2 linked regions of the Homo sapiens genome follow. The protein of the gene in region 1 interacts with the protein of each later gene in a pairwise test. Each region holds a gene or a part of one and is shown in the gene's direction. Other genes may lie near its edges.

What was found. The genes of interacting proteins can lie anywhere in the genome.
Region 2: the proteins of LRCH4 (region 1) and RBBP6 interact in a two-hybrid assay, tested with the Homo sapiens proteins (one study listed by BioGRID).

Annotation. Positions count from the first base shown.
Region 1 is NC_000007.14:100,573,505-100,576,175, reverse strand, and holds the end of LRCH4 (leucine-rich repeat and calponin homology domain-containing protein 4), read left to right. Parts: intron 1-167; coding exon 168-305; intron 306-393; coding exon 394-471; coding exon of another isoform or gene 472-789; exon of another isoform or gene 790-871; coding exon 872-1,069; 3' UTR 1,070-1,819; coding exon of another isoform or gene 1,820-1,924; 3' UTR 1,925-2,165; downstream 2,166-2,671. Other genes in the region: histone deacetylase complex subunit SAP25, read left to right, coding at 2,434-2,579. UniProt on the Homo sapiens protein: Accessory protein that regulates signaling by multiple TLRs, acting as a broad-spanning regulator of the innate immune response. In macrophages, binds LPS and promotes proper docking of LPS in lipid raft membrane. May be required for lipid raft maintenance.
Region 2 is NC_000016.10:24,570,517-24,573,366, forward strand, and holds the end of RBBP6 (E3 ubiquitin-protein ligase RBBP6), read left to right. Parts: intron 1-359; coding exon 360-1,929; 3' UTR 1,930-2,347; downstream 2,348-2,850. UniProt on the Homo sapiens protein: E3 ubiquitin-protein ligase which promotes ubiquitination of YBX1, leading to its degradation by the proteasome.

The DNA of each region.
Region 1 (2,671 bases):
CCTTGGGACCAGCCTCCCTCCACATCCTCTGTGCCCACTCTGGCACCTCCCCTGAGGACAGGAAGGGACAGGCACAAGTTCCCTGCTAGCCCTGAGCCCCCCACTCTCCCTGCCTCCCAGACGCCTCTCCTTCCCTGACCCCTGCTCTATGTGGTCTACACTGCCAGGTCCTTGAGTCCCGGCTGCAGCGGCCCCTGCCTGAGGACCTGGCCGAGGCTCTGGCCAGTGGGGTCATCCTGTGCCAGCTGGCCAACCAGCTACGGCCGCGCTCCGTGCCCTTCATCCATGTGCCCTCCCCTGCTGTGGTCAGTTGGGGCTGGGGAAGAGGTGGGGGATGGGCCGGGGCGCCTGTGGCCTCTCCCTTACCACATTTTCTTCTTTCACCCACCCCAGCCAAAACTCAGTGCCCTCAAGGCTCGGAAGAATGTGGAGAGTTTTCTAGAAGCCTGTCGAAAAATGGGGGTGCCTGAGGTATGGGGGCTGCTTTCTAAAGAGTGGTGGCATGCCGGACTCAGCCGAGCATGTGGCATGGATGGTGGGCTTCCATTTGCAGCGGATGTCTGCTCTCAGATGAAGGCACAGGCTGCCCCTGCCCTGCCCAGCATGCCCCCTGCCCTGCATGCCCCCTGCCCTGCATGTCACCTGTCCTACACATCCCCTGCCCTGCAGGCCCCATCTTGTCCTGCATGTCACCTGTCCTGCACATGCCCTGCCCTGCACTCCTCCTGCACTGCACTCCCCCTGCCCAGCACGTCAGCATGTGGGCGTGGTTCTGGCCCCAGCACGTGAGGGCAGGGGTGGGAGGGACTGTCCTGCTGCTGCTGCTGACGTCTGTCCCTTGTCCTTGTCCACCTGCTCTCCTCTCCCCCAGGCTGACCTGTGCTCGCCCTCGGATCTCCTCCAGGGCACTGCCCGGGGGCTGCGGACCGCGCTGGAGGCCGTGAAGCGGGTGGGGGGCAAGGCCCTACCGCCCCTCTGGCCCCCCTCTGGTCTGGGCGGCTTCGTCGTCTTCTACGTGGTCCTCATGCTGCTGCTCTATGTCACCTACACTCGGCTCCTGGGTTCCTAGGCCCCAAAATCGGCCCTCCCTCACCCCTTTCCCTTCCTCTCTATTTATAAGGTCCCTGCTCCACCCGACCCCACCTGCGGTGCCTTCAGCCCCAACCAAAGACACTAGTGCACCCCCTTCACAGACACTGACCTCAGAGGCCCCACTCTGGTGCCCCCAGACCCTGGGCCCCCAGCCTCTGGCCTCCCTCCAGTAGCCCCACGAGTCCCCACCTCTCAGTGCTGACGGTGCCTTCATGTCCCCGCCGGCCCTGCCCCTGCCCTCTGTACCCCGTGAGGGGTGGCAGGAGCTGGAGTCTCCCCCTTCCTCCTGTGCCCTCCCCTTCCCCCCCCAACAGCTGCTATGGGGGGGCTAAATTATCTCTATTTTGTAGAGAGGATCTATATTTGTAGGGGTTCGGGGCCCAGGCCGGGTCCCTATCTCTGTGTATAAACTGTACAGACCGTGGCCGCCCTGCCTGTGTGTGTGTGTGTGCGCGCGCGCGCGCGTCTGCTCCGCGTGTTGGTGGCTGTGGCCATGGCTCTGTGCCCACCAGCATCTCCCTCCTGAGATGCCGGCCTCTCATGCTCCCGGAGCGTCCGCCAACCCCCCGTGTCACCTCCCTTCTGTTATCGCTGACAGCTTTCTTGCGTCTCATTTGTCGCCGAGCCCCGAGCGCACGGTGATGCTCGGGTCTGCCCCCGACCCCCTGCCACAGGCCGGAAGCCGCAGGGGGCACCGTGGGGAAGCTAACCCGGCCCCTTCCCCCAGGAGTCACTGTGCCAGCCCCACCACATCCTGGAAGAGGAGGGGGCCCCGGGAAGGGGCCTCCCCTACATCGCTGCTGTCGTCCACGCCCTGCTGGACCGGCCTTAGGGGTGAAGGTGGGGGCACAGGGCCCACCCCGCCCGGGACCCCGGGAGCAGAAGACGCGCCTGGGCTCCGCGCTCTCAGAGAAGCACGTGGTGAGGGTGGCCTGGGCCTGGGCACCCTTGGCCTGCCGGCCTGGCTGCCTCTGGGGTCGAGGGTCTGGGTGGAAGGACCGCGGGTGTCGCAGGTGTCGTGTCAGCCGCAATAAACAGAAGCCAGAAGCCCTCTGGGTGGCCCTCAGGTGTAACTGTGTCTGAGAGCACGTGCGTCGCGGGGTTGTTGGGGGGGCCTCTGTTTCCGGAATTCACCGCCCAGTCGCCAGGGGGCGCCCGCGGGAGCCCGGCGGGGGCACGCGCCACGTGGCCGGGAGACGCACAGGGCGCCAGCGTCGCCGCGAGGCCTCTGGGGTGGGTTCGCCAGGAGGGCACGTTCGCGCCGCGCCGCGGAGGGAGGCTGAGAGGGCCGGGCCGGGCGGCGGGGACACGGCGGTACCGTCCTGCGCTCGGGAACGCGGAATGTTGCCCTGGTCGCCGCCGCGGTGGGGCGCGGGCCCGGAGGAGGCGCCCGAGGGACCAGGCCTTCCGGCGGGCAAGGACCAGGGCGAGCCCTGGAGCGCCGGAGCGGACGCCCCCAGGGAGCTGGGGACACCCCCATGGGACAGGTGAGGGGCTCGGACGGAGCCGTGGGGGGACAGCGACTGGGGGCCTCCATGCCTTCACCACGCGCTCTACGGAGGCTTCTCCATTGTCCCTG
Region 2 (2,850 bases), on another chromosome or scaffold:
GTGGGTGTGGAACTTTGTTGGGAGAAGGATTTTCTTCAGTTTTATCCATGCTTGTGCTTTTTATATTAATTATGAATGCTGATCTAGGGAAGTAGGCTGGTTTTATGTAGTCTTTTGTTGTCTTTGAAGAAGGGAATTGCCAAAGACAAGGTTGTAAATAGATTTTGGGGGTGAGCCACATTTGTGTTGATACAATCATAATCTTAAATTGTGTGTCTTCCTTAGGGCAGAATAAGTTTTTTGTTTTTTTTAATGTTAAAAGGACATTTGTGTTTAAGTTAGCATTTTTATATTTATCAGTGTTTTATAATTAATAGTAAATTCTTCATTAATTAAAAATATTTTGTTATTCTTTTTAGTACGAGCTCAACTGGAGGCAGTCCTGTGCGGAAATCTGAAGAAAAAACAGATACAAAGCGAACTGTGATTAAAACGATGGAAGAATATAATAATGACAATACCGCGCCAGCTGAAGATGTTATCATTATGATTCAGGTTCCTCAATCCAAATGGGATAAAGATGACTTTGAATCTGAAGAAGAAGATGTTAAATCCACACAGCCTATATCAAGTGTAGGAAAACCTGCTAGTGTTATAAAAAATGTTAGTACAAAGCCATCAAATATAGTCAAGTATCCTGAGAAAGAAAGTGAGCCATCCGAGAAAATTCAGAAATTCACCAAGGACGTGAGCCATGAAATCATACAACATGAGGTTAAAAGTTCAAAAAACTCTGCATCTAGTGAAAAAGGGAAAACCAAAGATCGAGATTATTCAGTGTTGGAAAAGGAGAACCCTGAAAAGAGGAAGAACAGCACTCAGCCAGAGAAAGAGAGTAATTTGGACCGTCTGAATGAACAAGGAAATTTTAAAAGTCTGTCTCAATCTTCCAAAGAGGCTAGAACGTCAGATAAACATGATTCCACTCGTGCTTCCTCAAATAAAGACTTCACTCCCAATAGAGACAAAAAAACTGACTATGACACCAGAGAGTATTCAAGTTCCAAACGTAGAGATGAAAAGAATGAATTAACAAGACGAAAAGACTCTCCTTCTCGGAATAAAGATTCTGCATCTGGACAGAAAAATAAACCAAGGGAAGAGAGAGATTTGCCTAAAAAAGGAACAGGAGATTCCAAAAAAAGTAATTCTAGTCCCTCAAGAGACAGAAAACCTCATGATCACAAAGCCACTTATGATACTAAACGGCCAAATGAAGAGACAAAATCTGTAGATAAAAATCCTTGTAAGGATCGTGAGAAGCATGTATTAGAAGCAAGGAACAATAAAGAGTCAAGTGGCAATAAACTACTTTATATACTTAACCCACCAGAGACACAGGTTGAAAAAGAGCAAATTACTGGGCAAATTGACAAGAGTACTGTCAAGCCTAAACCCCAGTTAAGTCATTCCTCTAGACTTTCCTCTGACTTAACTAGAGAAACTGATGAAGCTGCTTTTGAACCAGACTATAATGAAAGTGACAGTGAAAGTAATGTTTCTGTAAAAGAAGAGGAATCTTCAGGAAACATTTCTAAGGACCTGAAAGATAAAATAGTGGAGAAAGCAAAAGAGAGCCTGGACACAGCAGCAGTTGTCCAGGTGGGCATAAGCAGGAATCAGAGCCACAGCAGCCCCAGCGTCAGCCCCAGCAGAAGCCACAGTCCTTCTGGAAGCCAGACCCGAAGCCACAGTAGCAGTGCCAGCTCAGCAGAAAGTCAGGACAGCAAGAAGAAGAAGAAAAAGAAGGAAAAGAAAAAACACAAGAAACATAAAAAGCATAAGAAGCATAAGAAACATGCAGGCACTGAAGTGGAATTGGAAAAAAGCCAAAAACACAAACACAAGAAAAAGAAGTCAAAGAAGAACAAAGATAAAGAGAAGGAGAAGGAGAAAGATGACCAAAAAGTGAAATCTGTCACTGTGTAAAAAGACAGATTTTTTAAATTGACTTAATTACTAAGTCATCTGTATTAAATTTTGTTATAATGTAAAGAGATTCAAGCCTTGTAAATAATGACATGGAAGACCCTGTGCTGCACTTAAAATATTGCTGCTTGATTATTTGATTTTTACATCAGAGCTTTATAACACGAACTTTTGTACAGAATTGTGAGTTGTGACCATGTAACATGAGAGGTTTTGCTAGGGCCTATTATTTTTAACCACCATTAATTAGTTGGGGTGGAGTTTACTGTAATGTGAAATTTTCACATTTGAATTTTTTAATTGCCTGGCAAAAGCTGATATAAGTTCTAAAATATCAGCAGAATGATTTGCTGAATTCATTACAACCCTGTTATGTCACTTTTTGATTACAATAAAAGTTTTCAGTAAACTTTTCAAATGTTGAGTATTTGCATTATTTACAGAAAGTAGTGCCATATCTGTATACTTAACCCACCAGATGCAGGTTGTATGTGTGTCTCCATTTTCCTATTTTAAAATTCTTAGTTTTTAATACAAGCTGAACTGAATATACAGAATTCTAAATTAAACATGGAAGATACATTTCATAGGTGGGCAGGTGGTAGAGGCCAGAAATGAATCAGGATTAATTGGAGATGTGGTTAAATAAATCTAGGAGAGTCTTGAATTACATAGAAATTCGAAGTTTGAACTTTCAAAATGGTTTGGATTTGAATATTAGAGATGCAGAATTGTGACTCGTTTATGGCCACGTATTTTTCTGGAAACCCTGATAAATAAGTATTAAATTCCTTGATAAAGGAGAATGCAGCTAAACCAGTGAGTGCTTGTGGCCTACCCAATCTGCCCAGTTGACAAGCAAGCGGTCATTACTTACGATGAGTTTCCTTTATTGCTGTGGTTCGGGAAGTGTACCTGGGG